Linked DNA regions of Homo sapiens. The protein of the gene in region 3 purifies or fractionates together with the protein of the main gene of each other region. This does not show direct contact. Each region holds a gene or a part of one and is shown on either strand. Other genes may lie near its edges. The genes, in order: PBRM1, BCL7A and PHF10.

What was found.
Region 1: the proteins of PHF10 (region 3) and PBRM1 purify together in Homo sapiens (affinity purification with mass spectrometry; 2 studies listed by BioGRID and IntAct, with this or other methods). This does not show direct contact.
Region 2: the proteins of PHF10 (region 3) and BCL7A purify together in Homo sapiens (affinity purification with mass spectrometry; 4 studies listed by BioGRID and IntAct, with this or other methods). This does not show direct contact.

The regions. Positions count from the first base shown.
Region 1 is NC_000003.12:52,542,419-52,551,089, reverse strand, and holds the end of PBRM1 (protein polybromo-1), read left to right. Parts: intron 1-272; coding exon 273-343; intron 344-452; coding exon 453-669; coding exon of another isoform or gene 670-689; exon of another isoform or gene 690-799; intron 800-2,854; coding exon 2,855-3,027; 3' UTR 3,028-5,723; downstream 5,724-8,671. UniProt on the Homo sapiens protein: Involved in transcriptional activation and repression of select genes by chromatin remodeling (alteration of DNA-nucleosome topology). Required for the stability of the SWI/SNF chromatin remodeling complex SWI/SNF-B (PBAF).
Region 2 is NC_000012.12:122,037,456-122,048,079, forward strand, and holds part of BCL7A (B-cell CLL/lymphoma 7 protein family member A), read left to right. Parts: intron 1-6,430; coding exon 6,431-6,598; intron 6,599-10,624.
Region 3 is NC_000006.12:169,719,423-169,730,450, forward strand, and holds the start of PHF10 (PHD finger protein 10), read right to left. Parts: upstream 5,079-11,028; 5' UTR 4,510-5,078; coding exon 4,423-4,509; intron 1,690-4,422; coding exon 1,583-1,689; intron 1-1,582. UniProt on the Homo sapiens protein: Involved in transcription activity regulation by chromatin remodeling. Belongs to the neural progenitors-specific chromatin remodeling complex (npBAF complex) and is required for the proliferation of neural progenitors.

The DNA.
Region 1 (8,671 bases), on a different chromosome or scaffold from region 3:
AATACTAGAATTTTATGCAAGGTTCAAATCATTTCTAAGCCATAATTGATGTACATCTGACAGATTGTTCTAGTATTATACTTTAAGTACCTAGAAACAAAACAACTTTCTATTCAAATCCTATTGGGGTGCTTAAGATTCCTAGCCACAAAGATTCAAGGGCAGAGGTACATAGGTTTGAATTATGAATGGCATCATTTCTTATCAGACAGTAGTTTTTCAGTCATTTCAACCCAGAGCCTCTAACTGTGCCATTGCATTCTGAATTATAGGTGTGATGAACCAAGGAGTGGCCCCTATGGTAGGGACTCCAGCACCAGGTGGAAGTCCATATGGACAACAGGTGAGCCTCCCAGTTTGATTTTCTAGGACTTGACAGAATTCGAGTTATCCTTCTCAGAACATGTGCAGAGTCTCTTTTTGCCTCACCATGTGGTCCTGTGCTCTTTCAGGTGGGAGTTTTGGGGCCTCCAGGGCAGCAGGCACCACCTCCATATCCCGGCCCACATCCAGCTGGACCCCCTGTCATACAGCAGCCAACAACACCCATGTTTGTAGCTCCCCCACCAAAGACCCAGCGGCTTCTTCACTCAGAGGCCTACCTGAAATACATTGAAGGACTCAGTGCGGAGTCCAACAGCATTAGCAAGTGGGATCAGACACTGGCAGGTAAGATTCCTTCTAAATAAGCCTTTGTGAAATACATGCTTCCTCAAAGCTGTCTTACTGCTGTTAGCATAGTATATCATACAATAAACACCCCTTTTTCTTATACAATTAAAATAAATTATATATTTCATAAATGGTTTGGAGTTTCTTTGCATGTTTACGTAACACACTGAAAATGGTTTGTTTTGTTTTGTTTTGTTTTTGAGACAGGGTCTCACTCTGTTGCCTAGGCTGGAGTGCAGTGGCGCGATCTTGGCTCACTGCAGTCTCCGCCTTCCAGGTTCAACTGATTCTTCTGCCTCAGCCTCCCCAGTAGCTGGGATTACAGGCACATGCCACCACACCTGGCTAATGTTTATATTTTTAGTAGAGATGGGGTTTCACCATATCAGCCAGGCTGGTCTCAAACTCTTGACCTCAAGTGATCCACCTGCCTCGGCCTCTCAAAGTGCTGGGATTACAGGCGTGAGCCACTGTGCCTGGCCTGAAAATGGTTTTTGGGTTGTTTTTTTTTTTTTGAGACAGTCTCACTCTGTCGCCCAGGCTGGAGTGCAGTGGTACAATCTCGACTTACTGCAACCTCCGACCCCCAGGTTCAAGCGATTCTTGTGTCTTAGCCTCCTGAGCAGCTGGAATTACAGGTGCTCAGCACCACGCCCAGCTAATTTTTTTATCTTTAGTAGAGATGGGGTTTCGCCGTTTTGGCCAGGCTGGTCTCGAACTCCTGACCTCAGGTGATCTATTCACCTCAGCCTCCCAAAGAGCTGGGATTATAGGCATGAGTCACAGCGCCCTGCCTAAAAGTGTTGTTGTGGTTTTTTTTGCCAAATTTCAAAGCCTAGTTTTCTCATAAACATCACTGCCATCTTTTTAAGTACATTGTTTTTTGTTTGTTGTTTTGTTTTGTTTTGTTTTGTTTTTCAGGCATTTGGACATTAGTATAGATGCATTGGGTAAATTAAAAATTATTGGCCAGGCACGGTGGCTCCCACTTTGGGAGGCTGAAGTGGACAGATCGATTGAGTTCAGGAGTTTGAGACCAGCCTGGACAACATGGCAAAACCCCGTCTCTACAAAAAAATTAAAAATTAGCCAGATGAGGGCCAGGAGCGGTGGCTCACGCCTGTAATCCCAGCACTTTGGGAGGCTGAAGCGGGCAGATCACTTGAGGTCAGGAGATCAAGACCATCCTGGCCAACATGGTGAAATCCCATCTCTACTAAAAATACAAAAATTAGCTGGGCGTGGTGTCTGGTGTCTGTAATCCCAGCTACTTGGGAGGCTGAGGCACGAGAATCATTTGAACCCGGAGGTGGAGGTTGCAGTGAGCCAAGATCGCACCACTGCACTCCAGCCTGGGTGACAGAATAAGACTCTGTCTAAAAAAAAAAAAAAAACTATTTTACCTCAGTTTAACAAAAGGAAAAAAATATTAGAAACCGATTAGGCTATTCATTTAGTTCAACATACTTATGTATTTTCAGTATGTACTAAAGTACTTGTGTAGTTTCTGGAGAGAAGTTTGGAAGTTTCTACTTGTTCTTGATTTCTAAACCAACTTTGGTCATCTCATTTCATTTCTTTAGAGTAGAAGGTATATTTTCCCTTTCTTCACATGTTTACCTTTTTAGGAATTTTTGTTAACATTGAAGTAATTATTAAATATCAGGGATGCCTACAAAAAAATAATGATCAGGCCGGGTGCAGTGGCTCACACCTGTAATCCCAGCACTTTGGGAGGCCAAGGTAGGCAGATCACCTGAGGTCAGGAGTTCAAGACCAGCCTGGCCAACATGGTGAAACCTGTCTCTACTAAAAATAGAAAAATCAGCCAGGCTTGGTGGCAGATTCCTGTAATCCCAGCTACTCTGGAGCCTGAGGCAGGAGAATCGCTTGAACCCAGGAGGTAGAGGTTGCAGTGAGCTGAGATCGCGCCACTGCACTCCAGCGAGGGCGACAGAGCGAGACTCGATGTCAAAAAAAAAAAAAAATTTATGATCAAATCTTTTAGTGCCTAGTAAAATGATATAAGAAATGTGCCTGGAAATATTCTGCAGTTAAAATTCATAATATTTAATAAATATTCAATGTTTTGTGTTTTAATAAGTTCGTCAGACCTTAGAACTGAGGGAAATTTTGCCAACTTAAAATTCTAATTTCTGTCTCTCTGTACTTTAATTTTCAGCTCGAAGACGCGACGTCCATTTGTCGAAAGAACAGGAGAGCCGCCTACCCTCTCACTGGCTGAAAAGCAAAGGGGCCCACACCACCATGGCAGATGCCCTCTGGCGCCTTCGAGATTTGATGCTCCGGGACACCCTCAACATTCGCCAAGCATACAACCTAGAAAATGTTTAATCACATCATTACGTTTCTTTTATATAGAAGCATAAAGAGTTGTGGATCAGTAGCCATTTTAGTTACTGGGGGTGGGGGGAAGGAACAAAGGAGGATAATTTTTATTGCATTTTACTGTACATCACAAGGCCATTTTTATATACGGACACTTTTAATAAGCTATTTCAATTTGTTTGTTATATTAAGTTGACTTTATCAAATACACAAAGATTTTTTTGCATATGTTTCCTTCGTTTAAAACCAGTTTCATAATTGGTTGTATATGTAGACTTGGAGTTTTATCTTTTTACTTGTTGCCATGGAACTGAAACCATTAGAGGTTTTTGTCTTGGCTTGGGGTTTTTGTTTTCTTGGTTTTGGGTTTTTTTATATATATATATAAAAGAACAAAATGAAAAAAAACACACACACACAAGAGTTTACAGATTAGTTTAAATTGATAATGAAATGTGAAGTTTGTCCTAGTTTACATCTTAGAGAGGGGAGTATACTTGTGTTTGTTTCATGTGCCTGAATATCTTAAGCCACTTTCTGCAAAAGCTGTTTCTTACAGATGAAGTGCTTTCTTTGAAAGGTGGTTATTTAGGTTTTAGATGTTTAATAGACACAGCACATTTGCTCTATTAACTCAGAGGCTCACTACAGAAATATGTAATCAGTGCTGTGCATCTGTCTGCAGCTAATGTACCTCCTGGACACCAGGAGGGGAAAAAGCACTTTTTCAATTGTGCTGAGTTAGACATCTGTGAGTTAGACTATGGTGTCAGTGATTTTTGCAGAACACGTGCACAACCCTGAGGTATGTTTAATCTAGGCAGGTACGTTTAAGGATATTTTGATCTATTTATAATGAATTCACAATTTATGCCTATAAATTTCAGATGATTTAAAATTTTAAACCTGTTACATTGAAAAACATTGAAGTTCGTCTTGAAGAAAGCATTAAGGTATGCATGGAGGTGATTTATTTTTAAACATAACACCTAACCTAACATGGGTAAGAGAGTATGGAACTAGATATGAGCTGTATAAGAAGCATAATTGTGAACAAGTAGATTGATTGCCTTCATATACAAGTATGTTTTAGTATTCCTTATTTCCTTATTATCAGATGTATTTTTTCTTTTAAGTTTCAATGTTGTTATAATTCTCAACCAGAAATTTAATACTTTCTAAAATATTTTTTAAATTTAGCTTGTGCTTTTGAATTACAGGAGAAGGGAATCATAATTTAATAAAACGCTTACTAGAAAGACCATTACAGATCCCAAACACTTGGGTTTGGTGACCCTGTCTTTCTTATATGACCCTACAATAAACATTTGAAGGCAGCATAGGATGGCAGACAGTAGGAACATTGTTTCACTTGGCGGCATGTTTTTGAAACCTGCTTTATAGTAACTGGGTGATTGCCATTGTGGTAGAGCTTCCACTGCTGTTTATAATCTGAGAGAGTTAATCTCAGAGGATGCTTTTTTCCTTTTAATCTGCTATGAATCAGTACCCAGATGTTTAATTACTGTACTTATTAAATCATGAGGGCAAAAGAGTGTAGAATGGAAAAAAGTCTCTTGTATCTAGATACTTTAAATATGGGAGGCCCTTTAACTTAATTGCCTTTAGTCAACCACTGGATTTGAATTTGCATCAAGTATTTTAAATAATATTGAATTTAAAAAAATGTATTGCAGTAGTGTGTCAGTACCTTATTGTTAAAGTGAGTCAGATAAATCTTCAATTCCTGGCTATTTGGGCAATTGAATCATCATGGACTGTATAATGCAATCAGATTATTTTGTTTCTAGACATCCTTGAATTACACCAAAGAACATGAAATTTAGTTGTGGTTAAATTATTTATTTATTTCATGCATTCATTTTATTTCCCTTAAGGTCTGGATGAGACTTCTTTGGGGAGCCTCTAAAAAAATTTTTCACTGGGGGCCACGTGGGTCATTAGAAGCCAGAGCTCTCCTCCAGGCTCCTTCCCAGTGCCTAGAGGTGCTATAGGAAACATAGATCCAGCCAGGGGCTTCCCTAAAGCAGTGCAGCACCGGCCCAGGGCATCACTAGACAGGCCCTAATTAAGTTTTTTTTAAAAAGCCTGTGTATTTATTTTAGAATCATGTTTTTCTGTATATTAACTTGGGGGATATCGTTAATATTTAGGATATAAGATTTGAGGTCAGCCATCTTCAAAAAAGAAAAAAAAATTGACTCAAGAAAGTACAAGTAAACTATACACCTTTTTTTCATAAGTTTTAGGAACTGTAGTAATGTGGCTTAGAAAGTATAATGGCCTAAATGTTTTCAAAATGTAAGTTCCTGTGGAGAAGAATTGTTTATATTGCAAACGGGGGGACTGAGGGGAACCTGTAGGTTTAAAACAGTATGTTTGTCAGCCAACTGATTTAAAAGGCCTTTAACTGTTTTGGTTGTTGTTTTTTTTTTAAGCCACTCTCCCCTTCCTATGAGGAAGAATTGAGAGGGGCACCTATTTCTGTAAAATCCCCAAATTGGTGTTGATGATTTTGAGCTTGAATGTTTTCATACCTGATTAAAACTTGGTTTATTCTAATTTCTGTATCATATCATCTGAGGTTTACGTGGTAACTAGTCTTATAACATGTATGTATCTTTTTTTTGTTGTTCATCTAAAGCTTTTTAATCCAAATAAATACAGAGTTTGCAAAGTGATTTGGATTAACCAGGTTTGGTTGTTCTGTTAAAGTGGTGTCAGATGTTTCAAGCAGATTTAACTCCTGCAAGCCCTGATTTCATGCTGACAAGGTTGTATGTGACTGCCAATTTAAGAGAACAAAGCTCCACAGATGGAGATGAAAGTCAGTGTCCAGACCTCTGGTTCAGGGCTCGGGCTGCATTAACACAGAGCCAAATGTAGTCAGACTGCAGACTGAAGTGCCCCACGCCACGCCTCAGGCTGGCAGTCAAGGAATTCCTACATGTCCTCAGCATGGGCAGAAATGCAGGTTGAAATTAAAATTGGAGAATTACTGAGGGCGGAAAGTGAGGAAAGCATGTAAGCAGTATAGCCCACTTCAAATAGCTTGTCTGTGGCCAGAAGAAACAGGTGGCCCAGGTGTCTTTAACATCTTTATAAACTCTTAAAACATGACCATGCTTTTAATAGAAAGTGTTGGTAAAAGCAACCAACTGTTTTCCTCTAATATCACTTTGCAAATCCCTGTGGTTCTGTTCTCCTGAATTTAGGATAGTACCGGCATCTGTGCCCCTGAGCATATTTTGAACAATCATTGATGTATAGCTAGACATCCCATCTGAACACTGAGCAAACAAATATTGCTATTATTCTGTTCCTTTTTTTTTTTTCTTTTGAGACGGAACCTCACTCTGTCACCCAGGCTGGAGTGCAGTGGTGCAACCTTGGCTCACTGCAGCATGCGCCACCATGCCTGGCTAATTTTTGAATTTTTAGTAGAGACAGGGTTTCTCCATATTGGCTAGGCTGGTTTTGAACTCCTGGCCTCAAGTGATCCACCTGCCTCAGCCTCCCAAAGTGCTAAGGTTACAGGTGTGAGCCACTGCGCCCAGCCTACTCTGTTCCATTTTAGCCTGGAAGTATGTTAGGTCCCTGAATGAAAGTTCAGAACTAAACAAATTAATGGACTGTCCCTTTTCCCTGTTTTGGCTATTTCATGGTATTTACATCTTGCAGATAGCACATAAATGAGACAAGAAACTCCAGATTTAATACTCGTGTGAAGACTAAGCACTAACATGCTTTACTAGGAGATAAATTACTTTGGAAAACAACAGGGTCCAAGAGTGTGTGTGTGCGTATATATATATATTTTTGTTGTTGTCGTTCACGCCATTCTCCTGCCTTAGCCTCCTGAGTAGCTGGGACTACAGGCGCCCAGCACCACGCCCGGCTAATTTTTTGTGTTTTTAGTAGAGATGGGGTTTCACTGTGTTAGCCAGGATGGTCTTGATCTCCTGATGTCGTGATCCGCCTGCCTCGGCCTCCCAAAGTGCTAGGATTACAGGCGTGAGCCACCGCGCCCAGCTAAGAGTATATTTCTTTAAAGAGAGTTAATTCAGTGTGAAAAATTTAAACACACACACAAAATGGAGATTAAATATCACATCAGGGATGTAGGTAAGACTTCCAAAATAGAACTGCTAGATGAACAAAAATAACTCATTTATTCACTACTTTTTTTCTTTCTTTTTTTGGGGGGGGCTGTAATACTGTTGTACTATTATTAGGTACTTTCTCTATAAATTCAGATAATAAAGTGACACTCCAAAGCCCATATTCTTTCCCCAACACCACAGTGGAGGTAGAGTTCTAGTAATAAATGCTAATCAGGTTTTCAGCATTCTGCAATAAGTATAGTTCTTGAAATTTATTAAAATTTATGCCCTGTAGTTTACAGTTGGTGGTACTGCAATTCTTTTCACGGCTTTTTTTTTTTTTTTTTTTGGAGACAGGGTCTCACTCCATTGCCCAGGTTAGAGTGCAGTGCTGGGATCATACTTACTGCAGTCTTGATCTGGCTCAGGTGATTCTCCCACCTCAGCCTCCCAAATAGCTGGGACTACAGGTGCACACCACCAGGCCTGGCTAATTTTTTGTACTTTTTGTAGAGACAGGGTTTCACCACGTTGCCCAGGCTAGTCTTGAACTCCTGGGCTCAAGTAATCCTCCTACCTCAGCCTCCCAAAGTGCTGGGATTATAGACATGAGCCACTACTCCTGGCGCCCTTAAATAGTTCAGTGTCTGATAAGTAGGATAGAGTCATTCCTAGTAGGAGAGTTAAAAATACTTTTGAGGAAAAATTAAAAGCTTATATACCTTAGCTGGGCACAGTAGCTCATGCCTGTAATCCCAACACTTTGGGAGGCTGAGGTGGGAGCACTGCTTGAGCCCAGGATTTTGAGACCAGCCTGGTCAACACAGCAAGACCCTGTGTCTACAAAAAATTTAAAAATTAGCCAAGCATGGTAGCTAGCTAGTCCCAGCTACCTGGGAGGCTGAGGCAGGAGGATCGCTTGAGCCCAAGAGTTCAAGGCTGCAGTGAACTATAATCATGCCACTGCACTCCAGCCTGGGTGACAGTGAAACTCATCTCAAAAAAAGCTTGCACCCTAACAAATGAGTTCTCACTCACAGCATCCAAACTAATGTGCTCTGAAAACCTATCTTCCATTGAATACAATAATTGCTTTGGTAGTCTACCTGCCTAAAAGTCAGAAGTTGTCCAATCTTTTTTTTTTTTTTTTGAGACGGAGTTTCACTCTTGTTGCCCAGGCTGGAGTGCAATGGCGCGATCTCGGCTCACCGCAACCTCCGCCTCCCAGGTTCAAGCGATTCTCCTGCTTCAGCCTCCTGAGTAGCTGGGATTATAGGTGCCTGCCACCACACCCGGCTAATTTTTTTTTTTTTTTTTTTTTTTTTGAGACGGAGTCTCGCTTTGTCGCCCAGGCTGGCGTGCAGTGGCGCGATCTCGGCTCTCTGCAAGCTCTGCCTCCCGGGTTCACGCCATTCTCCTGCCTCAGCCTCCCGAGTAGCTGGGACCACAGGTGCCCGCCACCACGCCTGGCTAATTTTTTGTATTTTTAGTAGAGACGGGGTTTCATCGTATTAGCCAGGATAGTC
Region 2 (10,624 bases), on a different chromosome or scaffold from region 3:
CAAATCGACCTGTCTGGAAAACACAGTCACCAGCTCCAAGGGCAGGGGGACTGGCAGGTTTCTGAACGGGCTTTAGAAAAGCACAGTGGCGGTGGCTCATGCCTGTAATCCTAGCACTTTGGGAGGCTGAGGCAGGCAAATCACAAGGTCAGGAGTTCGAGACCAGCCTGGCCAACATGGTGAAACCCTGTCTCTACTAAAAATACAAACAATGGGTGCGGTGGCTCACGCTTGTAATCCCAGCACTTTGGGAGGCTGAGGTGGGCGGATCACCTGAGGTTGGGAGTTCGAGACTAGCCTGACCAACATGGAGAAGCCCTGTCTCTACTAAAAAATTTACAAAATTAGCCAGGCGTGGGGGCGCGTGCCTGTAATCCCAGCTAGTCGGGAGGCTGAGGCAGGAGAATCGCTTGAACTCAGGAGGCAGAGGTTGCGGTGAGCGGAGATTGCGCCATTGCACTCCAGCCTGGGCAACAAGAGTGAAACTATCTCAAAAAAGAAAAAAGATACAAAAAATTAGCTGGGTGTAGTGGCGGGCACCTGTAATCCCAGCTGCTCAGGAGGCTGAGGCAGGAGAATCGCTTGAACCTAGGAGGCAGAAGCTGCAGTGAGCCGAGATCGCACCACTGCACTCCAGCCCAGGCAACAGGGTGAGACTCCGTCTCAAAAAAAGAAAAAAGAAACGCACAGTGGGAGCCAGGCACAGTGGCTCACGCCTGTAATCCCAGCACTTTGGGAGGCTGGTGTGGGCGGGTCACTTGAGGCCAGGAGTTCAAGACCAGCCTGGCCAACATGGCAAAACCCCATCTCTACTAAAAATATAAAAATTAGCTGGGCATGATGGCGTGTGCCTGTAATCCCAGCTACTCAGGAGGCTGAGGCAAGAAAATCGCTTGAATCTGGGAGGCGGAGGCTGCAGTGAGCTAAGATCAGGCCACTGCACTCCAGCCTGGGCAAAGGAGCGAGACTCTGCCTCAAAAAAAAAAAAAAAAAAAAAAAAAAAAGAGCAGTGGGGCTTTGTTGCTGGTTAATGTGTCAAGAAAGCCCCCCCAACCAGCCATACAATCATAGTTGGGTTATGTTTCATTTTCAGAAATAGATATGTGAGCTGGGATGTGGCCTGTCTCAGTGGCATTCCTTAGCATCCCCTTTCCCTCTGGGGACTGGGGAGACCCCACGCCCGACTCAGGACTGAGGTTGGATTACAGACGCAGAATTACACCAGAGGGCCTTTTCGAGCTGAGGCCAGGACCCCACCTGGGTTCACATCCTAACTCTCCCTGCACCTTCCCCTGGCTGTGTGATCTTGGGCTATTTGTTTAACCTCTAGCTTTGGGGTTTGTTTAGTTTTAATCTGTAGAATGGGGATGGTAATGCCTACTTCATAAACTCACTGTGAGGATTAAATTAAATAATCTCTTAAAAACCTTGGCATGGGACCAAGCACAGTGGCTCACACCTGTAATCCCAGCACTTTGGGAGGCCGAGTTAGGAGGATCACTTGAGCCCAGGAGTTTGAGACCAGCCTGGGCAACACAGGGAGACCTCATCTCTACAAAAAAAACAATAGGTGGTTCGTATCTATAGTCCCAGCATTCTGGGAGGCCAAGGCGGGCAGATCATGAGGTTGGGAGATCGAGACCATCCTGGCTAACACGGTGAAACCCCATCTCTACTAAAAATACAAAAAAATTAGCCAGGCGTGGTGGCTGGTGCCTGTAGTCCCAGCTACTCGGGAGGCTGAGGCAAGAGAATGGCGTGAACCTGGGAGGTGGAGCTTTCAGTGAGCCAAGATCACGCCACTGCACTACAGCCTGGGCGACAGAGCAAGACTCAGTCTAAAAAAAAATAGATTAAAAAAAAAAATAATAATAATAATAAATTTAAATTAGCAGGTTGTGGTGATGCGCACCTATAGTCACAGCTACTCTGGAGGCTGAGGATCATTTGAACCTGGGAGTTGGAGGCTGCAGTGAACAGTAATTGCACCACTGCATTCCACTCTGGGCAACAGAGCAAGACCCCATCTCTTAAATATATATATATATATAATATATATATTATATATATTATATAATATAATATATAATATAATTATAGTAAATATTTTATTTTGGGCCAGGTGTGGTGGCTCATGCCTGTCATCCCAGCACTTTAGGAGGCCGAGATGGGAGGATCATTTGAAGTCAGGAGTTGGAGACCAGCCTGGTCTCTATGGTAAAATCCCATCTCTACTAAAAATACAAAAATTATTGGGTGTGGTGGCACACGCCTGTAATCCCAGCTACTTGGGAGGCTGAGGCAGGAGAATCACTTGAACCTGGAGGCAAAGGTTGCAGTGAGCTGAGATCATGCCACTGCATTCCAGCCTGGGCGACAGAGCAAGACTCCATAAAAAAAAAAAATTATTTTACTGTATTCAAAAATAGAGACAGGGTCTTGCTATGTTGCCCAGGCTGTTTCCAAACTCCTGAGTTCAAGCAATCCTCCTCCCTCAACCTCCCAAAGTGCTGGGAGTATAGGCATGATCCACTGTGCCCAGCCTATAATAAAAATTTTAAAAACCTTGGCATGTTAACAGCTCACATTTATGAAACCGTCACAATGTGCCAAGTATTGTGCTAAGCCCGTTACATCATTGCCTCATTTGAGTCTAATAACCAACCGCATTTTACAGATGGAGAAACTAAGGCCCAGTGAGGTGAAGTAACATGCATGGTTAGCAAGTTCATAACTTCCAGTGCCATTGATGGCATTTGAGGTTGGTTCTTTGAAGACAGAATCCAGGTTTGTGGCTGGCCGTGGTGGCTCACACCCATAATCCTAGGACTTTGGGAGGCCAAGTTGTGAGGATCGTTTAAGGTCAGGAGTTGGAGAGCAGCCTGGCCAAACAATGGTGAAACCCCATCTCTACTAAAAATACAAAAATTAGCCGGGCATGGTGGTGGGCACCTGTAATCCCAGCTACTCGGGAGGCTGAGGCAGGAAAATCCCTTGAATCGGGAAGGGGAGGTTGCAGTGAGCCAAGATTGCACCACTGCACTCCAGCCTGGGCAAGAGAGTGAGGCCGTGTCTCCAAAAAAAAAAAAAAAAAACCAAAAGATCCAGATTTGTGACCTGGATAAACTCTCCAGAAAAATCTAGGATGCTGAACAAACCAGGTCCCCAGACACAGGTGCCCTGTTGACTTTCTGATTTTCATTTTAGTGCACGTGCAGCCGAAAGCCAGTCAGACTGCAGAGTGTGTAAATGGGAAGGTCAGGGAAAGGTGTGGGCCGGGCAAGTTTTCTGGAAGGCTTCAAGTGGGAGGATGGGTACAGCAGGGGATGAAGGAGAGGGCGGTGCCCCGGGCCCTTTAGTCCACAAGACTCAGCTGAAGTTAGCCCAAGTATCAGGGTCACGCTGTTACCAGGCTACCAGGCTAGACCAGACGTTAAACATTAGTGCTCATTGTCATTCATTAACAGAGCCTCAGGAACCTACGGGGCCAGCCTCTTGCGCGTGTGCTTGCCATAGGAAGGAAGTCTAGTTTTTCTCAAGGGAGAAATCGGGGAGCACACATCCTTCTTTTTTTTTTTTAAGTCCCAGAATTCACAAGAGGATGCTTTTGTGTAACGAGCACCCCAGAGTACAGTTAAAATCAGATCCAGGTTACCCGTGTGGGGCCGCCTGACTGCCTGGTGCTTCCTCGGCAGGTTGAGGTAGAGGAGGGGCGTGGGGCTGGGAGTTGGGCAGATGGGTCCGGCAAGTGGCTCTGCTGCTCCCAGCCTCAGTTTCCCCCTCCGGAAAGTGAAGGTGGTAACGGTGCCTTTCCAACGGGTTGTGGGGAGGATTCCACGAGGTGTCCATAAATGCTTCTGCCCAGTGCCTGGCATGGTGGCAGGTGCCCAGGTCTGTTGGGGTGTCTCTGTCTCTTTCTCATGTTTACAAAAGTGGCCATCGCCCCGGGTGCAGCATGGCCCCCAGAAAGGCTGCTTTGGTTTTGAAACCTCCACTTGGGTCTCTGCTGTTTAAAACGACTCTCCTAGGTTGGGCACAGTGGCTCAGGCCTATGATCTCAGTGCTTTGGGAGGCCAAGACAGGAGGATCACTTGAGCCCAGGGGTCCAAGACAGCCTGGGCAACATAGTGAGACCCCATCTCTACAAAAAACTTAAAAATTAGCCAGATGCAGTGGCACATGCCTGTGGCCCCAGCTACTCAGGAGGCAGAGGCAGGAGGATGGCTTGAGCCTAGGAGTTCGAGGCTGCAGTGAGCTATGATTGTGCTGCTGTACTCCAGCCTGGGCAACAGAGCAAGACCCTGTCTCTAAAAATAAAAAATACATAAATGGCTGGGTGTGGTGGCTTACTCCTGTAATCCCAGCACTTTGGGAGGTTGAAGCGGGCAGATCACCTGAGGTCAGGAGTTCAAGAGCAAGCCTGACCAACATGGCGAAACCCCGTCTCTACTAAAAAATAATAAAAACAAAAGTTAACTGGGCATGTTGGTGCATGCCTGTAATCCCAGCTACCTGGGAGGCTGAGGCATGAGAATCGCTTGAACCAGGAGGTGGAGATTATAGTGAGCCGAGATCGCGCCACCGCACTCCAGCCTGGGTGACAGACTCCATCTCAAAAAAATAAATAGAGTGACTCTGTGCCTGAGAAGGGGGTGCAGGACAAGGGGAGGTGCAGCCCGGGCCCCAGCTCTGCCCCCAGCCCAACTGTAAATGCCATTGCCCAATTACCCCTTCTCTTTCTTCTTTGTATTGTGAAGGGTTTTGTTGTCAAGAACAGTAGAGAGAGGAATACGATCCCCCTGTACACTCCACCTTGATTTTCATGAACACGGTGCCACATTTGTCTCATCTATTTTTTCAATGTGTTAGATTTTTGTAATTAAAATATAATTCACATATAAAAAATACACAGCTAGTGGCCGGGTGTGATGGCTCACACCTGTAATCCCAGCACTTTGGTAGGCTGAGGTGGGCAGATCACCTGAGGCCAAGAGTTCGAGACCAGGCTGGCCAACATGGAGAAACCCGTCTCTACTAAAAAATACAAAACTCAGCCAGGTATGGTGGCAGGCGCCTGTAATCTACTTGGGAGGCTGAGGCAGGAGTATTGCTTGAACCCAGGAGGTGGAGGTTGCAGCGAGCCCAGATCGCGCCATTGCACTCCAATTTGGGCGACAGAGCAAGACTCCATCTCAAAAAAAAAAAAAAAAAGTGTAAAAGTTCAGGGAGTCCTGACAGTGGCCGGCAGCCTGCACTGAAGTATTTTCTGGTAAATTTCCCTGCCTCATGACATTCAAGTCTGCACCTAAACGTCATAGCATGCATTGCTGAAAATATGACGTTTCTACATACCCACTGTCCCATGATCACTTCTAACTAAATTAACAACAGTTCCTTAATAGCTTTTAAAACCCAGACCATATTCAAATTCCCCAATTGTTCCAAAGTGTTACAGCTGGCACGTTTGAAACAGGATCCAAATCATTTCCATACATCATATTTAGTCGAGTCTCCTAGCTTTCTTTATTCTAAAGTCATCTCCCCTCCCCCAACTTTTTTTTTTTTTTAAATATGATACTGACTTTAAGGGAGTGGACCACGTGTCCCGTGGAATATGCCACCTCCCGCTGTCTCTCTCTCCCTTTTATTTCCTATCAAGTGGAACTCAGCTCCAGGCTGGATGCAGTCAGACAGAACGCCTTGGCAATCCCGCCTCACGGACCATGCCGTGTCTTCTGTATCGCTTCCCTGCCAGACACACAAGACGTCTGGTTTCTACACCCAGAATGAGGCCTCAAATGTCCCCCCAGGATTTTAAATATGTTAGGCCACCATCCCCAGCTGGCTGCCTCCAGACGCAGGGTACAGTTGGCTCAGTGTGGGGAAGGTCAGGCCAGTGCCGGAATTCTTTGCCTCTCTGGACACATGGGATGGCTGTGGTGCTTGGGTGGGTGGGTGGGTGGGGGTCAGGGGGCGGGAGTGAGCTCAGGGGTCCCAGGAGGAGGCGTATCCAGTATCCAGACCCCTACCACACGGCCGGGTGCAGTGGCTCAACGCCTGTAATCCCACCACTTTGGGAGGCCGAGGCAGGAGGATTACCTGAGGTCAGGAGTTCGAGACGGGTCTGGCCAACATGGTGAAACCCCATCTCTACTAAAAATACAAAATTAGCCAGGCGTGGTGGCAAGTACCTGTAATCCCAGCTACTCGGGAGGTGGAGGCAGTGAGCCAAGATTGCACCACGGTCCTCCAGCCTGGTTGACAGAGCGAGATCCGTCTCAAAAAAAAAAAAAACGGTAACCAGACCCCTCCCCGGGAGAGCTGCCATGGGGTTCCGGGCATTGAGGCACAGGGATGCTGAGCCCTCTGACCTACCCGTCCTTGGCAGCTGTGGGATTTCATCCTGTGGTTCTGTTCCCACCCCCTACAGACGATAACAGCAACCAGAGCTCCATCGCAGATGCCTCCCCCATCAAACAGGAGAACAGCAGCAACTCCAGCCCCGCTCCAGAGCCCAACTCGGCTGTGCCCAGCGACGGCACCGAGGCCAAGGTGGATGAGGCCCAGGCTGATGGGAAGGAGCACCCAGGAGCTGAAGGTATGTGGCCTCTGGAGGTGGGGCTCTGACGGCCTCCCTGTAACCGGCCTTCAGGCAGTCTGTGGCTAGGTGTTCCAGGAGGCCCTGTCATGTGCCAGCCCCAGCAAGGAGACAGTAAAGAGAGGTGACACCTGGAGTACATGGTCTCGTGGGGGAATTAAAAAAATCAGACAGGCCAGGTGCAGTGGCTCATGCCTGTAATCCCTGCACTTTAGGAGGCCAAGGTGTGAGGACTGCTTGAGCCTAGGAGTTCAAGACCAGCCTGGGCAACATAGCAAGACCTCATCTCTACCAAAAAAAAAAAAATAGCCAAGTGTGGTGGCACACACCTGTGATCCAGCTACTCAGGAGGCCGAGGTCGGAGGATCACTTGAGCACAGGAGGTCAAGACTACTACAGTGAGCCATGATCATGCCTCCGCACTCCAGCCTGGGTGACAATAAGACCCTGTCTCAATAATAAGTAAATAAATAAAAATCAAACAATTGGCCAGGCATGGTGGCTCACACCTATAATCCTAATGCTTTGGAAGGCTGAAGCAGGAGGATCACTTGAGGCCAAGAGTTTGAGACCAGCCTGGATAGCATAGCAAGACCCTGTCTCTACAAAAAAATGCTTTAAGATGAGCTGGGCATGGTGGCATGTGCCTGTGGTCCCAGCTACTCAAGAGGCTGAGGCGGGAGTATCCCTTGAGCTCAGGAGTTGGAGGCTGCAGTGAGCCGTGATCACACAACTGAACTCCAGCCTGGGTGACAGAGTGAGACCCTGGCTCAAAATATAATTATATTAATAAATTTTAAATGTATTTAAAAATCAGACAACCTAGTATTAGGAAGATAAGTGTGGCAGAGAATTATAAAGTAGGAAAGGGGTGGGGGGTCTTGCTGAATGACCTGGAGAGTTGCAGTTTTAAATGGGGTGGTCGGGGCGGCCTTTGAATAAGACAAGGCTCAAACTGGGCGACTGAGCAAGCCATGTGGGGATCTGGGAGGAGAGCAGTGTGGGCAGAGGTAAGAGTGAGTGAGGAGCTGGAAAATAAGATGGGCACCAGGCGCGGTGGCTCACGCCTGTAATCCCAGCACTTTGGGAGGCCGAGGCAGGCGGATCACTTGAGGTCAGGAGTTCAAGACCAGCCTGGCCAACACGGTGAAACCCTGTCTCTACTAAAAATACAAAAATTAGCAGAGTGTGGTGGCATGTGCCTGTAATTCCAGCTAGTCAGGAGGCTGAGGCAAGAGAATCACTTGAACCCAGGAGGCGGAGGTTGCAGTGAGCCGAAATTGTGCCATTGCACTCCAGTCTGGGCGATAGAGCAAGACTCTGTCTCAGAAAAATTTTAAAAAGTTAATAATAATACGGGGTCAGACAGCAGGCAGCGCCTCAGGTGTGGGGGGCTCGTAAGGCCACTGCCTGGCCTGGGTTTTCATGGTAAGACGGGAGCCACTGGGGGCTTGGGTGACATGATCTGAAGGATTAAGAACAGATGATGGGGTGATTGTGTGAGAGTGTGTGTGTGATTGTGTGAATGTGTACACAAATATTTGTGTGTGTTTATTTTGAGTCTCTACAGAAAAATTAAAAGAATGGCATAATACTGTCCTATATATCCACCTGCTGAACTTGGCAATTGTTGGCTTTTGGGTTTCTTTTGCTTTGTATTTTTTCTGGGACCATTTGAAAGTAAGTTATAGATCTCAGGACATTTCATCCCTAAACATGTCAGCACGTGTCTTTTAAAAATAAAGACATTCTGGGCTGGGCACAGTAGCTTATGCTTATAATCTCAGCACTTTGGGAGGCTGAGGCAGGAGGATCTTTTGAGCCCAGGAGTTCAAGACCACCCTAGGCAAGAAGACGAAACCCCGTCTCTACAAAAAATATAAAAATGAGCCCGGCATGGTGGCATGCGCCTGTAGTCCCAGGAGGATCGACTGAACCTGAGAGGTCGAGGCTGCAGTGAGCCATGATTGCACCACTCCAGCCTGGGTAACAGGGTGAGACCTTGCTAAAAAAAAAAAAAAAAAAAAAAAGGCATTCTCTTACAGATTTACAAATACCGTTACTGCATCTAAGAAAATGAGCAGCATTCCGGATGGTCTAACATGGAGGTATATTTTGAAGGTGAGGGGAGAGCCTGTGTTGGGCAGTACATAGGGGTGAGTGCGGACCTGAGGGCAACTCTGGGCACCTGGAGGGACAGCAGTGGCTGAGCGGGTCTGGGGAGGGCAGGCCAGGTCTGGAGCGCCTTGCACACCCATGAGGAGCTGGCGAGCATGGAATGTGGAATGGCAAATGTGACCAGCCTGCAGCTAGGGCCACCCCAGGGCTCAGGGCGTGTGTGTCCTGGGAGCAGCCAGTGTGGTTCTAGGAGAAAGGCTGTCCCCTGCTGCAGAGCTGATCCGCACCCCTGTGCAAGGAGGCTCTGGGCTGGCGCCAGGGCCCCAGTCATAGCTGCACTCTGCTTCCTGCACCCCAAGAACCCATAGGTCAGCAGGGGAGACAGACACTGGAACGAAGGACTCATTGGCAGAGATGCAGACAGACTCTATCCAGCCCGTGGTGTGAGAATCTGGCTATACAGAACCCTGCAGTATCATTTTTTAAATTTGAATGTGATGTCAAAATTTAAAAATTGAGCTTAAAACAGGATTGATTTCTAGCTTCTTTTGAAGAATCAGCTTTGACAATACCGGGCCTGCTCTTCCCTGGGGCAGTTACCAGCTGAAGCAGAAGAGACCCTTCCCTGTTGTCTCTAAACCAAGGCCAAAGGGCGCTTGCCTTGTGTTACCTCATGGCCACTGTTGTTTTTCTTATTGTAGATTTTAAAAGGAAAATTAAGATATTTCTTGGGTTTTTTTTTTTTTTTTCCAGACGGAGTCTTGCTCTGTCGCCCAGGCTGGAGTGCAATGACGTGATCTCGGCTCACTGCAACCTCCGCCTCCCAGGTTCAAGTGATTCTCTTGCCTCAGACTCGTGAGTAGCTGGGTTTACAGGCGTGCACCACCACGCCCGGCTAATTTTTGTATTTTTAGTAGAGATGGGGTTTCACCATGTTGGCCAGGCTGTTCTCAATCTCCTGACCTCGGGATCCACCCACCTCGGCCTCCTAAAGTGCTGGGATTACAGGTGTGAACCACCACGCCTGGACTATTTCTTGGTTTTTGTTTGTTTGTTTGAAATGGGGTCTTGGCCGGGCGCAGTGGCTCATGCCTGTAATCCCCGCACTTTGGGAGGCTGAGGCGGGCGGATCACAAGGTCAGGAGATTGAGACCATCCTGGCTAACATGGTGAAACCCCGTCTCTACTAAAAATACAAAAAAATTATCCGGGCATGGTATTGGGCGCCTGTAGTCCCGGCTACTCGGGAGGCTGAGGCAGGAGAATGGTGTGAACTCGGGAGGCGGAGCTTGTGTTGAGCCGAGATCGCACCACTGCACTCCAGCCTGGGCGACAGAGCGAGAATCCGTCTCAGAAAAAAAAAAAGAAAAAAAGAAATGGGATCTCACTGTTGCCCAGGCTGGAGTGCAGTGGTACAATCTCCGCTCACTGCAGCCTTGAACTGCTGGGCTCAGGTGATCCTCCTGCCTCAGTCTCCCAAGTAACTGGGACTACAGACATGCACCACCATGCCCTGGTAATGTTTATAGTTTTTTGTACAGACGGGGTGTTGCTATGTTGCCCAGGCTGGTCTTGAACTTCTGGGCTCCAGTGATCCTCCCACTTTGGCCTCCCAAAGTGCTGAGATTACAGATGTGAACCACCACACCCAGCCAAGATGTTTCTTGAAGCTATTTCTCTATCAGAAGTGGAGGTGGAAAAGTGGAAAAGAAAAAGGCTGGAGAAGGCTTTTTTTTTTTTTTTTTTTTTGAGACGGAGTTTCGCTCTTGTTGCCCAGGCTGGAGTGCAATGGTGCAACCTTGGTTCACCACAACCTCCACCTCCCGCGTTCAAGCGATTCTCCTGCCTCAGCCTCCAGAGTAGCTGGGATTACAGGCATGCACCCCCACACCCGGCTAACTTTTTATT
Region 3 (11,028 bases):
ACCCAGAAGCAAAGAATGGACCTAGTTTGAAGGTGCCAGGGTATCACAGTCGATCTCCATCCTGAGTAACAGAGTACAGATTTCAGGATATGGGCCAATTCAACCTCTATATTGGACATGGGAAAGTGACACTATGTTATGCATCCATCTATTTAAAAAGTAACCTTCAAAAAGAACAGTGTTCTCAAAAATGGTGCTGGGAAACTGGGTATCCACATGCAAAAGTATAAAATTGGACCTTTACCTCATATCACAACTCAAAATGGATCAACAACCTAAATATAAGAGCTAACTAGAAAACTCTTAGAAGAAAACATAGAAATCTTTCACAACCTTGGATTTGAAGGTAGATTCTTACATATGACACCAAAAGCACAAGCAACAAAAGAAAAAATAGATGAAAAATTTGGGCTTCATCAAAATTAAAAATTTTGTACAGGGACACTATCAAGACAGTGAAAAGACAACCCACAGAACAGGAGAAAATATGTGTAAATCATATTTTTGATGAAGTATTAATATATAAAATATATTTAAAAAGCTCCTACAACAAAAAAAACCCCAAATAAAAAATGGACAAAGAACTTGAATAGACATGTCTCCAAAGAAGCTATACAAATGGCCAAGCAGATGAAAAGATGTTCAATATCAGTAGGCATTATGAAAATGCAAATCAAAATCACAATAAAATATCACTCCACACCTTTTAGGGTAACTATTATTTTAAAAAATGAAAAATAACAAATTGGTGAGAAATATGAAGAAACTGGAAACTGTGAATTGCTGGTAGGAATGTAAATTGGTGTGCAGCCCCTATGGAAAACAGTTTGGCAGCTTCTCAAAAAATTAAACATAGGATTACCATATAATCCAGCTACTCCACTCCTAGATAAACATCCAAAAAAACTGAAAACACAAACTCTGAACACCAATGCTCACTGCAGCATTATTCACCTTGGCCAGAAGGTGGAAACCCAAATGCCCATCAACATCTGAATGGATAAACAAAATCAGTATATACATAAAATGGAGTATTATTCAGCCTTAAAAACAGAAAAAAAGTCTGACATATGCTACAAAGATGAACCTTGAAGATATTCAAAGTTCTAAGAGAAATAAGCCAGCCACAAAAGGACAAATATTTTATGGTTCCACTTATATGAAGTAACTAAGTAGTCGTATTCACGGAAATAGAAAGTAGAATGATGGTTGCAAGGCGCTAAATAGAGGGAGAAAGGGAGGTTATTGCTTAATGGTTATAAAGTTTGGGGTAGTGAAAGTTTTGGAAATGGATGGTGGTAATGGCTGCACAACACTGTGAATGTAACTGATGCCAATGAATTTCACACTTAAAAATTGTTAAAATGATTAATTTTATGTATGTATGTATTTTACTATCATAAAATTGCTTTTTAATTACACTCAGTAGCAAGACCAACTTTGATGGCACATTATAGAACAGGAAGAAAATATTCTACAATTTTTAATAATTGCCTTTGCCAGAGCTGGGGGAAAGGGAAGAGGATGTTAAGGCAAAGAGGAACATCACAAAAAATATTAATAACCGATAAAATGACAGTACCCAAGATCTTGACTTGAAGTTTCACAACTCCTAGAACTATCTCCTGAGCCCATTCGCCTCCTTTTGGATGGCTGGGTCCCATCATTTGAATTATCTTCATTATCATCCTATACATTTAAAAGATTCAAAAATAATAATTAGAGAAAGAATAAAAGAACAGTAAGTCTCAATAAATGAAAGACTGTCTAAGGACAACTAGTCATACAAGTATTAACTTCATATTATAATTAAAAGGGTCCAAGAGTTTGGCATGAGCAAGACCTGGAATAAAATTTAAAACTGATCTTCAATCCAATCCAAATAAGAACATTTTCAATGAACCCGTAAATGCAAATCTGCTTTGGTTTCTGCTCTTCATAAACATATCAAACTGCTGCATCACTCTAGGATTAAAGCAAACTCTCCTACCCAAGCTCAGGGGGAAAAAAATGTATGGATCATTTACAGTTCTCAATTCAACTTGAAGCCGGTTCATAGGACTATTTTAATTGACTACTTTAGGCATTTATGTCCCTGTGAAAAGGGGACATATGAGACCGAAAACAATTCTAACTATTCACTCTTCCTCTTACACTGCTAAAATTTAGCAAAAATATACCCTAATAAGGGTCATCAATCTATAATATAGCAGCACACACACCAAAAAAAGAAGCTTGAGAGGGGGAGGGGAATTTTTTTTTTAAAGAAGATTATATATTTTTAATGTAATCCATTATGTGGCAAGAACATCAAGGTTATAAATTCAACCATTTCATTCAGAAAAAGTATCAGATGTTAGGAAATTGATTTATTTACTTATTAGCCAAGGCTTAAAGTCTAAAAATCATAATTTTTTAATGTAATATAGCTTTCAACGCTAATCCAATTTTGCTAAATACTATAGTCCTCTTGCTACATATTAAAATGAAAGCAATCCTGCAAAAGAATATAAAGAGGCAATATGGTATAGTGGCCAGGCATGCCAGAGCTGGACGGCCTGGGTTCTCACTGGGCACTGTCCCTCACTAGCTGAGTAGGTTATTCTCTGTGAGCATCTCCTTATCCGAAAATTTGAGACTATAATAGTGCCCCATTACATGGCTAATTCAATGATTAAACGAGCTACTATATTAAAAGTACTTAGAACAAGGACTGGCGAGTTATCTGATAAATATTAGTTAAAATGATGATTATGATGATAATAAAGTCTCAAATGTCTCTAGCTCCTAGGAATTAACTGGTTCTTTTCCAAATAGTAAAATATATATTCTTTTTCAGTCCTTATAAAATAAGCATTTCATTAAAGAGCTTTGCATAGTCTAAATCTACTCTCTGAAAATTTGCATAAGTATCTGCATACAACTGCAACACTGCATATTCAATACTTTCAACATAACTCATTTTAAACATTCCAGTATTTTTTCTATTTTACTGGTGAGCATTTTAAGGATTTTTATATCCTTAAACTTAAAAACATTTTCCTTTAGCTAAAAAGTTGAGACACTCAAAAATATACAAAAATAAAGTTAAAAATGCAAAGTGCTCAAAAAAGCTGAGACTACAATTTCATCAAGTGTTTTAAATTACTACTACAAATTCTAGGCAAAGGCATTATTATATAAAGTGAGCATCTGGGCAGCGGGCCTTTTTCTTGAGGGAGGTAGTAACAGCAATATTGTTCCCAATACATGACGGAATAAGGTAAGAATTTCCGTGTAACCGCAATACTGATACAGAGGCCCATGTTTTCAAAGACTCCCAAACATACTAAATCAGAGATGTGCCTTCCAGAGTTACAGGTGGTTTCCAACTACAGATCAGATGAATTTCTATGCATCACATCCTTCCTAGGGCTCAGGGGTCAAGAATGCACTCAGGGGGCACTGGCTCAGTGCCCTCCAGGTGCCGGGCCAGACGTCAAATGCTGGAAGTGCAAGGATGTGCATTCAGAGTCTTACAATCTAGTTACTTCCATTGACGACAGCCTTTGAGGAACCTTCAAAATGAGTCTCACAGCACGGTGGACGTGCGCAACGGGAAAAGCTCCCAAGCAGGCGCAGCCCGGCTAGGCTGCTACAGGACGGCTTCCCCTGCCAACGCGCACACGGCACACCGCGCACCGCACGAAGGCTGGCTGGCTCTGCAGCATTCCAGTTCCCACCGCCTTCTAATTTCAATCCAATTTCAAGCTTCCAGGCTTTTAAAACATCATTCCTCCCTTCCAACTTTCTGTCACAAACTGCTAGCCTAACTTTAGAACCAAAACGTTTTGATGCGTGACACTACTGCTCATCTCCATTTTCTCCACAAGCACCAATTTCTTTTCACCTCCTCAAGCAGTAAAAAGTTTTAACAGACTTCCGCTGAAAACATCCGGACGCTTGCGTATTAACTTAGTTATTACAGTAAGTTCACTGAGTGTGTTGATTTTCCATATCGTTCGCCACTCGGTTTTTGCAGTAAGCGTTCAAACACTTCGGCAAACTATGCGCGGAATGAACGCTGAGCGAACGCGCGCTTCTGCAGGCCCCTCCGAGGCCAACTCTCTCGGCCCCGGGCGCGTTCCGTCCCACGGCTGGCCTAGGAGGAGGCGTTTTGGGGACAAGCTTGTCAAGCAGGGCCGGCTGCCAACTTCGGGGAAGCCGCGCCGCGTCCCCCGCCCGCCCGCACTTGTTGCTCGCTAGAGGCCGCGGGCTCACCTCGGGGCCCCGCCTCGCCGACCACCCCCGGTCTCAGGCGCGGCGCCCGGCCTGGGCCCACGCCCCCGAGACGCTGGGCGGCCGCCGGTGGGACTGGGCCCACGCCCCGGCACCCAGGCCCGGGACGGGGTCAGGGTCGGGTCGCACCGGCCGCTTCCTCACCTTCGGGGACTGCGCTCCGGGGGTGGCTGGGTCGCTGTCGCACGGCCGCGGGGACAGCGCAGCCCCGGGCCCGGCCGCCGCCGCCATCAGCCCGAGCGCCCCGCGCCGCCGCCGCCGCCGTCGCCTCCGCCTTGTCCCGGCCGCCGCCGCCGCTGCCGCCGCCGCCGCCGCCGCCGCCGCGCGGGCCCCCCGCCGCCCCGGCCCCGCCCCCTCCGCCCGCCCGCCCGGGGGCCGGCCCCTGCCGCCGCGCGCCCCGCGGCCCGCCAGCGCCGCCGCCACCGCCATGGCCGTCGCCAGCGCGCCGCCCGCGCGGGAGGGCGCCAAAGGCTGGGAGGGCGCGGGGCTGCGGGCCGGAATGGAGGAGGCCCAGCGGCGGCGGCGCTTCTCACGTCAGCCCAACCCGCCCGGCCGCGGCCACCGCCTCAGCACCGTTGCCCCCCACAGCTCCGCCGCTGGCCTCAGCGCCGCCGCGACTCCCTTCAGCCCCGCCACTCGCTCGCCTCAGCCCCGCCGCTCGCTCGCCTCAGCCCCGCGGCCGCCTCAGCCCCGCCGCTCGCCTCAGCCCCGCCGCTCGCCTCAGCCCCGCCGCTCCCCTCAGCCCCGCGGCCGCCTCAGCCCCGCCGCCGCCTGGCTCCCCACGGCCCGGCGTTGTACTCGGCCGCGGCTCCCCCCAGCCCCCGGCGCGCCCCACCTCCCGCCCGCCCTCCGGCCCGCCCCGGCCCGGCACGTCGCCACTTGGCGCGCTCGCAGCCGCCCCCTCCCCGCGGCCCCCGGCCCGGCCCCTCCGCGCGTCACCCTCGTTCCCTCCCTCTCTCCGCGCCCCCGCCGCGCCCCTCCCCGCCCCTCCCGGGGGTCCCCGCCCCGCCCCCTCTCTGCCGGGGGTCGCCCTGCCCGGAGCAGTCGCGCGGAGACTGCGCGGCCTCCGCCTCTACGCGCTCGCGGTCGCCGCTCCTCTCCCGCCTTTGTTCTCGGGTCGCCCCTCTCGCTGGTGGCGCTCCGAGAGAGCAGCGGAGCCACCTGCCCAGGCCACGCTTCCCCGAGCATCCGCAGCTGCACCCGGGGGCTGTCGGCGCCCGCCCCGGAGCGTGCGGGAGGCACAGCGGGAAGAAGTCGCTGAGATTCGGCCCTCGTGGCTTTGCGTGCCCGCGTGGTTGATGCCTCCGCCGAGAACGCGGTCGGCCGGGAGCCGGGGAGGAGCGTGGACGCCGGCCTGGCAGGTACCCCCGCGAGAACGTGGGAGCCGGTGTATTTCAGCTGCATTTATTACTGATCTCGGGCTGCACCAGGGCACTTGTAGGACCGCACTAAAAACAGCGGAAAGTGAGGAGCCAAGCCTGGGTCCGGGGCGGCCCGCCGTACAGCTGGCCTCACGGATTCCACTGCCTGCGCCTGCAGATGACTTGTTCTGGAGAGTAGAGAATGTTCTCGGATTTAAAGTACAATCCGGTTTCCTTTCCATTCATTATAGTTGCCTACACTCAACAAACAAAAGTTGGGAAAGATAAAGGGATTATTCTAGCGCGTCACATTGACAAACACCGACGTTAACACGCTCAGTCCAGCCTGACTCACTTGCCTCAGGTCAGAGAGGTCACCACTGACGACGCCGGGCCCTCAAGCCGATCCTAATCCAGCTTGGTTCTCTCAGCCTCAGCCAGACCATCCGTTCTTGCCTCTGTCCCACCACGTGCAGGTGTAAGCTTCCGCCGCACTTCTTGTCTGAATCTGCCAAGAAGAAACTGCATCTTTCAGCTAAATTCTTTTCACTGATCAGGGTAGAGTTTAGCGGTTTTTTTTTTAAGAAAAAAAACAAAAACAAAAAAAAACTCTTAAGCTATTTGGTACTCCTCTCCCTCCGGGATTCTGTCTCTAGATTGTGAAAGCTGTCAGAGAATGGAGTCAGGGAAAGCCGTGATGGGAAAGTTCTCACTAATAATTGCCTGATATAAAGAATTAGCACAAAAGACTGCCAAAACCACAACCTTGCACAAAGGCCACAAAACTACACAAAAAAATGCTTCAAGGACATTTGCGCAGCAACTGCCTGTCCAACCTTGGACTGGCCATCCCCTTTGTTACTGATCTTTGTAGCCAAGGATAATTGTTTCAAAACAACTTACGTAATCCTCCTCGTTTTTCCTTTTAAACCCCTTATCTTCCTTTACCTCCCTGAATACACCTATAGTTTACTATGACACCATATTCTACATTGCAATGCCCACTTTCAAATAAATTTGTCATGTTTGGCAAACCTGTCTGTTATTTAGGTTGACAAGATCAAATGCAAATTTATTCTGGAGTCAACAAATAACTGATTCAGTCTTCCAATGTGCAAGGCAAAGAAGAATATTAAGGAGACACTGTATAGATTAGATCCCTGCCTATAGGCAGCTTCAACACTAATACAATATGGTACGAATATATAATTGTACTTTAAGGCAGCTTAGGTGGGAAAACAACTAGCAACTAAAAAAAAAAATGGAGTTTACTACCAACTAAAAAAAATGGAGGTTTCAAGGTTGACCTAGAATTTGAAAACTGCTTTAAAGACAGGTAAGAAAGACACAGGTAGATGTGCAATGGAAGTAGAAATTGGGTTTCAAGCCCCAAACAGGCTGAGGGGTGGGAAAATAGACATATTCAGGTACATCAATCGTTCCAGTTTGGCATAAGAATGAGATAAATGAAGATGGATTCTAGGAGTTAAGGATGAAATATGTAGGGAGGTACTATGATGTAATGGAGAGAACAAAGATTTCAAGTTAAGACTTTGGTTTAAATCCCAGCTGTGCCTCTTATTAGCTGTGTGATCAAAGGTAAATTAGTTAATCTCTCTGACCCTCCATTTCCTCATTTGTATGATAACAATAATGTCCAATTATTCCACAAATATTTTATGGCAAGCCAAGTATTAACTAAGAACTATGTTAAATGATGAAGATATAAAAAAACCATTTATTCATTCATTCATCAAATGAATGCCTTACTGTTTACTAAGTTACACCCTGAGTTAGGCCCTGGAAATACTGATAAGGGGGAAAAAAGCATGAAACCGTATGAGACCACTTAGATTATGCAGATATACGTGAAAATAAGGCCCAAGACCAAGAAGTCCAAAGGTACTCAACTTGTGGAAGTAAGATAGAGAAGGAAAAAAAAGAAAACTAAGTGTAAAGTACTGTAAACTGAAAGGAGAGAGTGTTTTAAAAGAGGGACTGGTCAGCTCTCCTAATGGAGAAGTTAGTAAGGTGGCAGAGAAGAATACATTGTATTTATCAACCTGGAGGTAATTAACTGTCTTGACTGTTTCAAGCTATTTCAGCAAAGTGGTGGTTTCAGAAACTAAATTAAAGCAGATTAAGGGAGGAATGGAAGCCTAGGAATTGGAGCCAGAGTATAGACAACTCTTCTGTGTAGTTTTATTATAAAAAGTAATGGAGAAAGAGAGTATCTGGAGAGGTGGTAGGGATGTTTTTAAGATGGAAGACATTAGCACATGTTGGTATACTGAAAAGAATGACTGAGTAGGAAGGCAGAAAACCATGATTGAGCAGAGAGAGGAAATGCTACTGGAAGGCAGCTTGTGAGAAGGCAAGGAAAAATGGGCTCCAGAGCACAGGTATTAGACAGGAAGCAGAATCCACCCAATTTAACAGGAAAGACAGAAGGTGGTCGCAGCTGCAAGCAGGTGAGTGGAAAACTTGAAGGTTTGTTTTTTTGTTTTTTTGTTTTTTTTTGAGACAGAGACTCACTCTGTTGCCCAGGTTGGAGTGCAGTGGCCTGATCTCGGCTCACTGCAAGCTCCACCTCCTGGGTTCACGCCATTCTCCTGCCTCAGCCTCCCAAGTAGCTGGGACTACAGGTGCCCGCTACCACACCTGGCTAATTTTTTGTATTTTTAGTAGAGACGGAGTTTCACCATGTTAGCCAGGATGGTCTCGATCTCCTGACCTCATGATCTGCCTGCCTCGGCCTCCCAAAGTGCTGGGATTACAGGCGTGAGCCACTGCACCCAGCCAACTTGAAGGATTTTTATTTCTGATATATTTTCTTTCCTTCATGAAATATAAAGGGAAAATCAGCTGACAGTTGTGTAGGGGAGAGAGATACAGAAGATCTGAGGAAGAAGGAGGTGTGTCAGCAGGAAAGCAAAGTTTCCAGGATGCCAAGTGTTTTGCCTTCTTGAGAGTTATGGTCATGAATTTAAAGTGAAACTACTCGGTCTGGCTTTGTCAGGTTCTCAGTCAAGTTTACCTACTTGGATTCAGGCTTGGACAAAGTGGATAATGGGGTTCATTCAGGAAGGGGTTTTCCAGGTGAGGAAGAGGGACAAAGAAATTGAAGTCTGTTTGTAAAGGAGTGATTATAATGATGAGCCATGATATCTAAGCTGGACAAGGTAGGAAATTTGAGGGCTATAAATGGTGAAAAAAGCCAATGAACTGGAGATTTCAATAAGATTAGAGAATGGCTGTCTTCGGGGTACTAGAGGTGGTGAGCTGGAAGGACAGGAAATGATTGCATGAGAATAACTTGCTTGAAATAAAGATTTCAGAAGTCATACTAATATTGGCGACAGCAAAGTCTAGAGGGGTAAAAGGCAACTGAATGTGAGTTGGTTAAGGAATTAGAAAGCATACAGCCAGTCCTAGCTTGGCATGGTAGAACATGACTAGAAAAATGACCATGGAAGTTGAAATTGTGCAAAGTGATCTTAATAATCAAAGAGAAAAATTAAAATTGTTCTGTGACACTTAAGAACTTTTGTTGAAACATCAAAAACTCTGTTACTGCTACGTAGACATATCAGGAATTTTTTAAATTGTAAAACTAATTTATTTAGTATGCCATAATTTAAAACATGAGAAACATGGAGAATCAGTCTTTATTCTTTGTGAAAAACAAAAGAAAACAAAACAACTTACCAATAGTAGTGTGAACTGTTTGCCTCTTCTCATACTATTAATCTTCTGTCTTGAAAAATTGTTATTCTGCATTCTAAGTTTAGATTAGCTTCCAACATTTTATCTTTGCATTTTCAATCTTGTGAACTATTCTCAGGAATTCTTTAATACAAAGTGTATCAGCAACACTTCCTGTGGACCTCTTCACCCTTTTGTCACAGCCACTTTAATCTCTTAACATTAATCAATTCATAAAATGATGAAACCAGAATTTACTGGCTGAATAAGGTTTTTATTTAGTCTCTTTGTAATTATCATTTTCTTTCAACAAGACAACCAACTTCAACACTTCACCCGAATGCTAGCCAGACTGATTGGGAAAAAATTTAAATTTATTACAGTCTTCAGTCAAAAGCAGGAAAAAGTCTTTATATCGGCCATAATTTGCATTCTCTTTCTAGTGCAATTTAAACCAAAAGATCCTGAAGCAACTTACCTTGTTTTTTCTACTTACTGAACTTTTTCTCTATGGCTTCTATGGTGCCTTTTGTGTAGGCCGAGGTCTCATCCTATCTTTGCTTTGCTTTTGTCATTTTCAAATTCCCTAATCACATCTAATTTCATTTCTGCATTATTATTTTTTTATTTGCTGTACTTTCATCTTTCTTGGCCAATTCCCTTTTAATGATCCATTTTTGTAAAATATCATGTTAGTTTATCACTGGGAATCAAGGAAGCTATACAACTACATGCTTTGCTGCTTGTAAACTGAAAAACTGAGTAACAGTTGTGCAGTGACCAATAACTGACAGACTCTGAAAGAAGGATTGTGATATCTGCTATGGACTGAATGTTTGTGCCTTACCTGCAAATTCATAAATTGAAGCCCTAATCCCCAGTGTGATGGTATTTGGAAGTGAGAACTTTGGGAGGTGATTAGATTTACATGAGGTCACGAGAGCAGAGTCCCCATGATGGGGATTAATATCCTTTCAAAAAGAAGAAGAGATACAAGATTCATATTCCTTCTCTTTCTCTCTCCCCTGCCCCCACCCCCACCAAGGAAAGACCAGGTAAGGACATAACCAGGAAGAGGGCCCTCACCAAGAACCACCATGTTGGCACCCTGATCTCAGACTTTCAGCCTCTAGAACCTCAATAAAAAATATTTGTTTAAGCAACCCAGTCTAAGGCATTTAATTATATTAGCCCAAGCTAAGACAGTGCCCATCTGTTATTTACATAGTGATCTGTGAACTGAAGAGCTAGCTGTGAATTTTCTTCTTTATGCAATTCCTCACATAAAGTTAATATGCAATCATAATTGAAATGTGAACCACCTTGTTGGGGAACTGGTATTATTTAACTAAACCACAGTAAATGAAATTTGCTTGAATATTCTGAAAGTGAAAATTGCACAGTGCATACTAGAACTGTGCAAAGTGAGGACTGCCTTGTTTTGGATGGCTCATCTATGTGGATGTTGAAGTCCCAAGGAAAGATGACAGGAGTTGGGTGGGGATGAAGATTATATAATCCAGTAGCTCAAGTCTTCAAGTGATGGGGAGGAATAAGCCAGGAACTACAGGCAGCAGAAATCAACAGGTAAAAGATTATATATTCAGATAGCATACATTTTCAGGAGCCAGAATTTTTTTTAAGGTCAAAGGGGTTACCTACGCTAACTCCTGGCTGTAAGTCA